Homo sapiens: one gene and its partner. The protein of the gene in region 1 interacts with the protein of each later gene in a biochemical or structural test. Each region holds a gene or a part of one and is shown in the gene's direction. Other genes may lie near its edges.

Evidence for each region.
Region 2: the proteins of XIAP (region 1) and HTRA4 form a complex in vitro, tested with the Homo sapiens proteins (2 studies listed by BioGRID and IntAct, with this or other methods).

The regions. Positions count from the first base shown.
Region 1 is NC_000023.11:123,862,926-123,866,678, forward strand, and holds part of XIAP (E3 ubiquitin-protein ligase XIAP), read left to right. Parts: intron 1-3,753.
Region 2 is NC_000008.11:38,984,151-38,987,903, forward strand, and holds part of HTRA4 (serine protease HTRA4 precursor), read left to right. Parts: intron 1-3,753. UniProt on the Homo sapiens protein: Serine protease.

The DNA.
Region 1 (3,753 bases):
AAAAATACAAAAATTAGCCGGGCGTGCTGGCTTGTGCCTGTAGTCCTAGCTACTTTGGGGAGCTGAGGCAGGAGGATCACCTGAGCCTTGGGAGGTGGAGGCTGCAGTGAGCCATGATTGGGCCACTGTACTCCAGCCTGGGCGAAAGAGTGAGACCCTGTCTCAAACAAAACAAAGAAACAAAAATCTGAATTGTAGACTCTTTGTAGATAAGAACATATTTTTTAAAAAAGTTAAGACTAGGGCCAAGTGCGGTGGCTTTCACCTGTAATCCCAGCACTTTGGGAGGCTGAGGTGGGCGGATCACCTGAGGTCAGGAGTTCAAGACCAGCCTGGCTAACATGGTGAAACCCCATCTCTACTAAAAATACAAAAATTAGCTGGGTGTGGCGGTACACCCCTGTAGTCCCAGCTACTTGGGAGGCTGAGGCAGGAGAACCACTTGAGCCCATGAGGCGGAGGTTGCCGTGAGCTGAGAACGCAACATTCAACTCCAGCCTGGGCCACAGAGTGAGACTCCACCTCAAAAACAAATAAAAAGTTAAGACTAAAACAGTTTATAGTGATTAGGAGTTCAGCTGTCTAGTTTTGTTTTTGTTTTGAGATGGAGTTTCACTCTTGTTGCCCAGGCTGGAGTGCAATGGTGCGATCTCGGCTCACCTCAACCTCTGCCTCCCAGGTTCAAGCAGTTTCCTGCCTCAGCCTCCCGAGTAGCTGGGATTACAGGCATGCGCCACCACGCCCGGCTAATTTTGTATTTTCAGTGGAGACGGGGTTTCTCCATGTTGGTCAGGCTGGTCTCAAACTCCCGACCTCAGGTGAAAAAGTGCTGGGACCTCAGGTGAAAAAGTGAGTCACTGCACCTGGCCCAGCTGTCTCGTTTTTAGAAATAGATTAAGACTCAAAAAAAATATTGCCCACCGTAATATATCTGATTATTAGCAAAGCTTGGACTAGAGTCTAGGTTCTAGTCTAGTGGCCCTTGTACTATACCTGTAATTTTATTGCTTTCTAGTGCATTGGATGATTCCAACTAGGCTGACAAAGTAATAATATCTAAAGGTTAGCCAGGACCATTTCAATAGTTAAGAATTATTATTTTTTTCTTTGGTTTTTATTTTATTTTGTCTTCCTTTTTTTTTTCATTTTCAGGAAGTGAGCAGTTTCTCAAAATTATTATAATTAATGGACCAGCTAATTTGTATAGTGCTTAAAATATTTTAGTAACATAAATTTTACTAAATAAATTTACTAATTTAGTAAATAAATGTTCTCCTTTTATTTCATTGTAAACATTAATTTCTTTAGTAAATCCTGTATTTATATTGTAAATGTTTAGCGATAAAATAATGATATTTCACTGTTTTTGTTTGGTCTAATATTTAAGTCTGGTAGGTAGTATTAGCAGAGAGCAAAACCTACAGTTTATGAAATAAACATTCATTGAGCACTTAATGTGTTCCAGGCATTCATTGTAGTATGTGGTAGGATTCCAAGGATAAATATGGCAAAACAAATGCCTTTCTTCTGTTTTTTTTTTTTTTTTTTTTTTTTTTGAGACGACGGAGTCTGGCTCTGTTGCCCAGGCTGGAGTGCAGTAGCGCGATCTTGGCTCACTGCAGGCACTGCCTCCCGGCTTCACGCCATTCTCCTGCCTCAGCCTCTCAAGTAGCTGGGACTACAGGCACCCGCCACCACACCCGGCTTAGAGTGTGTGTGTGTGTGTGTGTGTGTGTGTGTGTGTGTGTGTGTGTGTTTTAGTAAAGACAGGGTGTCACCGTGTGTGTGTGTGTTTTAGTAAAGACAGGGTTTCACCATGTTAGCCAGGATGGTCGCATTCTCGTGTGTGTGTGTGTGTGTGTGTGTGTGTGTGTGTGTGTGTGTGTGTGTGTTTTAGTAAAGACAGGGTTTCACCGTGTGTGTGTGTGTGTGTGTTTTAGTAAAGACAGGGTTTCACCATGTTAGCCAGGATGGTCGCATTCTCCTGACCTCGTGATCTGCCTGCGTTGGCCTCCTAAAGTGCTGGGATTACAGGCGCGAGCCATCACACCAGGCCGCCTTTCTTCTTTTTTTTTTTTTTTTGCTTTTTTATGTTCGTCTGTTTTTATTTTGCTTTTGTGTGTTTGTTTGTTTTTCCATTGTTCTTTTGAGGCTGGGAGATTATCATGAGCTGTCAATTCTCAAGCTTTATCTCTGTGAGATAATCTGGTAATAGTTTTATAAAATGTAACCTGTTAGCACTATTAAAGGACATTGTGTGAGTAGATATGAAGAGACAAACAGTAGTGATAAGATAAAAAATACTTTAGAATTTAACAAATACTGTTTCTGTATCTTAGAGGTCATGTGCTACAGTGTTTGGAAAGAGCCCTACGTTGGGTACCACAGTACAGGTTATTGACTTTGTTTCCAATTAGCTGTGGGATTGTGCATGTCAATGACCCCATCTTTCTTTACATGTTCACATTTTTGATATGTTATTTTAGGTGTTGAATTCAAAACATAAAAAGGGTATTTTAAGGCCGGGCGTGGTGGCTCACGCCTGTAATCCCAGCACTTTGGGAGACTGAGGCGGGCGGATCACGAGGTCAGGAGATCTAGACCATCCTGGCACCCCTCTCTGCTAAAAAAAAAAAAAAATACAAAAAATTAGCTGGGCGTGGTGGCAGGCGCCTGTAGTCCCAGCTACTTGGGAGGCTGAGGCAGGAGAATGGTGTGAACCCGGGAGGCGGACCTTGCAGTGAGCCGAGATTGCGCCACTGCACTCCAGCCTGAGCTACAGAGCGAGACTCCGACTCAAAAAAAATAAAAGGGTATTTTGAATATTTTATTTTATTTATTTGTTTTTGAGACATTGTCTTGCTGTGTCACCCAGGCTGGAGTTCAGTGCATGATCCCAGCTCACTGCAACCTCCACCTCCTGGGTTCAAGTAATTCTGGTGACTCAGCCTCCCAAGTAGCTGGGATTACAGGCGTGTGCTACCACACCTGGCTAATTTTTTTTTTTTTGGTATCTCTTTTTTTCCCCTCGGAGACAGAGTCTTGCTCTGTCGCCCAGAGCTGGAGTGCAATGGCTGCGATCTCTGTTCACTGCAGACTCCGCCTCCTGGGTTCAGGCAATTCTCCTGCCTCAGCCTCCCGAGTAGCTGGGATTACAGGCGCACGCCACCACAACTGGCTAATTTTTGTATTTTTAGTAGAGACGGGGTTTCACCATGTTAACCAGGTTGGCCTCGAACTCCTGACCTCGTGATCCACCCACCTCAGCCTCCCAAAGTGCTGGGATTACAGGTGTGAGCCACCACACCCAGCCTTTTTTGTATTTTAAGTAGAGACAGGATTTCACCATGTTGCCCAGGCTGGTCTTGAACTCCTGACCTCATGTGATCTGCCCGCCTTGGCCTCCCAAAGTGCCAGGATTACAGGCATGAGCCACTGTGCCGGCCTTTGAGTATTTTAAGTTATAAAAGAAATATGTGTTTCTATATATATTATATAATATATATTATACATGATATATAATATATATGATATAAATTATATTATATACAATATATTATATATGATTAATATATAATATATGATATATCATATATAATATCAAAATATATAATATGTATATAATAATGTATGATATATATAATATAGTATATAATATATTACATGTATAATATATTATATATAATATATAATACAATATATGTAAAATATATATAATATATAACACAATATAATATGTAAAATATATTACAT
Region 2 (3,753 bases), on another chromosome or scaffold:
CCACCACGCTTGGTTAATTGTTGTATTTTTAGTAGAGACAGGGTTTCACCATGTTGGCCAGGCTGGTCTCGAACTCCTGACCTCAAGTGATCCACCCACCTCGGCCTCCCACAGTACTGGGATTACAGGCATGAGCCACCACGCCTGGCCATATTTTAGGTATTTTAAAACACATTTTTCGGCTGGGCATGTTGGCTCAGCCCTGTAATCCTAGCACTTTGGGAGGCTGAGGTGGGAGGATTGCTTGAGCCTGAGAGTTCGAGACCAGCCTGGGGAACACGGTGAAACCCTGTCTCTACAAAAAATAAAAATTAGGCCAGGTGCCGTGACTCACGCCTGTAATCCCAGTACTTTGGGAGGCCAAAGTGGGCAGATCACTTGAGGTCAGGATTTTGAGACCAGCCTGGCAAACTTGGTGAAACACCATCCCTACTTAAAAAATATAAAAATTAGCTGGGTGTGGTGTCGCATGCCTGTAATCCCAGCTACTTGGGAGGCTGAGGTCAGAGAATCGCTTGAACCTGGGCAGCAGAGGTTGCAGTGAGCTGGGATCACGCCCCTGTACTCCAGCCTGGGCAAGAAAGCGAGACCCCATTTAAAAAAACAAAAAACAAAAAACAAAAATTAGCCAGGTGTGGTGGTTTGCACCTGTGGTCCCAGTTACTTGGGGAGGTCGAGATGGGAGGATCACCTGAGTCTGGGCTGTAATGAGCTGTGCTCATGCCACTGCACTCCAGCCTGTGCAACAGAGTGAGACCCTGTCTCAAACAAACAAACAAGCAAAAAAAAACTACACCAAAACCTCACAAAACCTACATTTTTCTTTGAACTCTGAATGACAATATCAGAGGCCAGCGCTAAGACCTGTGTAATAAAGCAAAGGCTAGGACAGCTTCCAAAAGAAGGTTCTCCAGCTGATTTCACTGTTGTTTCAAAACATTTAATACTAAGTACTGAGAGAGGTGGCTTGTCCTACAAATATCATTCTCCTGGGCTTTTCTGTTGTACTTCTTTTTTTTTTTTTTTTTTGAGACGGAGTCTCGCTCTGTCACCAGGCTGGAGTGCAGTGATGCGATCTCGGCTCACTGCAACCTCTGCCTCCTGGGTTCAAGTGATTCTCCTGCCTCAGCCTCCCGAGGAGCTGGCACTACAGGCGTGTGCCACCACGCGCAGCTAATTTTTGTATTTTTAGTAGAGATGGGTTTTCACCATGTTGGCCAGGATGGTATCCATCTCTTGACCTTGTGATCCGCCTGCCTCGGGCTCCCAAAGTGCTGGGATTACAGGCGTGAGCCACCGCCCGCGGTCTGTACTTCTTTATTATCCCTTTCTCATTGTTTTTATTTTTCAAGAGCTCAGTAATCTGTTTAGATTATGGCACCACTTTCACTGGGGCTTTCCCCCTAGTGAAATCAGAGGGCACTGTTCAGCACAGCAGTCATAGGTCTCATGTTACTAAATTTGGCTTGTCCCTGGTTTCTCTGGACTTTTCTCATTCCTGCTCTGCTCCACTCTTCCCCCATTTCCTTAAGTTCTGGTTCAAGACCAAAGCTATTTCTTTCGGCTAAGTCCTTGCTACTCAGAATGTGGTCTGTAGACCAGCGTCATTAGCTCAGCTGGGGCTTGTTGGAAAGGCAGAATCCCAGGTCCCACCTTTGATCCACTGAATCGGAATCTGTGTGTTTAACAAGATCCCCAGGTGATTCATGTGTATGTTAAAATGTGAAAATTAGTGCTGGAAGTTGCTGATAAACAGAAATCAGGACTGGGCATGGTGGCTCATGCCATGATGTGGGAGGATCATTTGAAACCAGGAGTTTGAGACCAGCCTGAGCAACATAGTTTCTAAAGACAAATAAATAAAATAAACAAAATCAGCTGGGTGTGGTGGCAGGTGCCTGTAGGGAGGCTGAGGCAGGAGGATCATGTGAGCCCAGGAGTTTGAGGCTGCAGTGAGCCATGACTGCACCACTGTATTCCAGCCTGGGTAAGAGAGTGAGAACCTGTCTCAAACAAATCTATTCTTTCTGGCTTTCACTGACTTATACCTAATATAATGATAATTACACCACTATCTGGCACTTACAAAACTTTTACTATATCTCAGGCACTATTTGAAGTGTTTTATTTTTATTATTATTATTTTTTTGAGACTGAGTTTCGCTCTTGTTGCCCCAGCTGGAATGCAATGGCATGATCTCAGCTCACTGCAACCTCCGCCTCCTGGGTTCAAGCGATTCTTCTGCCTCAGTCTCCCAAGTAGCTGGGATTACACACCTAGCTAATTATTGTACTTTTAATAGAGACGAGGTTTCACTATGTTGGGCAGGCTGGTCTCGAACTCCTGACCTCAGGTGATCCACACGCCTGTGGCTCCCAAAGTGCTGGGATTACAGTGTGAGCCACTGCTCCTGGCCTATTTGAAGTGTTTTATACACCTGTTTGTGCTCCCAACATTTTATGATATAGGTATTATTTTATAGAGGAAGCAGCTGTGGTACAAAGAGGTTCATTAACTTGTAGAACGCAGTAAATCAGAGAGCAGAGAGCAGGGATGTGGGCCCTGGCTGAACCCTTCTATTATCCTGCTTTGGTGGCTGCTTTTCTGTTTCTGACAGGCAGAGTGATTTAGTGGCAAGAAGATGGGTTCCCAAGTCTGAAAGACCCAGGATGAAATCCCTCTCACAAGTTGCATGACACAGAAAAAGGTCATTTGTCCTGTCTGAGCCATAGTTCCTCATATTTGGTGCATAGGTTATTAGTAATAATTTGCAGGTTTCTTTTTCTCTTTTCTGACTCACAGGACTAGTATGAATTAAGTTCTCTATAAGTTCTTTCTTTGTACTCACTGGTCCTAAGTCATCCTCCTAAACTGTCTTTGTTCTAAGGTTATTTCTTGATTTTAGTTTTATACTTAAGCGTCTCTTCATATCCTCTTGCGTTAAGCTTCTTCTTTTTAAACTCCACATATCTTGATGATCAAACCACATTATCATTCTTCCTTGAGCTTCCCATTTCTATCAAGTGGTGTCTCCTGGAGTCATTTGCTGTTCCTTTTTCAGCCTATTTTCACCAAATCACTGGCATGGCTATTTCTGTATTGTAGTGTTTTGTATTTGGAGCTGGTTTTTGCTTCTAGAATATATACTCTATGTGAAGCAATTATGTTGAAGGCAATAAAGTCACAACTTTGGAGAAAAGGAGCCTAGAGCCAGAGCTGGAAATATTTAGACTCAGAAGGTTGGCGGGTTTTTGATTTAGTGGAAGCAGAATTCCTATAATGCAGCTCAGCATCCTTCCCAGCTCCATAAGCTGGGGCGGGGGGGTGGGGTGGGGTGGGAAAGACAGGCAAGTGAGTGGGCTGCCAGAATCAAACTGAGCCGAGTTTAAGTGTCTGGGAGAAAACATATTGCTTGGGCTTTTCACTTTGGCTGCTGAGGCTGGGAGCATGTTTGAAGTTCACAGAGGTCAGGGGTTGATAGAAATTAAAAGCTAAACTCCCCCTTCCAAACCAACTCCCCAAAATGGGAGGAGTAAACTTCTCACATGATTCTGATAGGAAATTAATTTTATAAAGGTAAATAAGACAGTTGTCCTCTAGGTGACTTTTTTGCAGCATATTTTAGAATAGCTTTATGATTTGGAAGGATTGAGGCTATTTTCTCGTTTGTATGCTTAATGCCAGCAAAATAGTGCCATTAAGACAGAAATATTAAATTATAGATGGGGATAAGTAAAATTCTTGTTATAGTT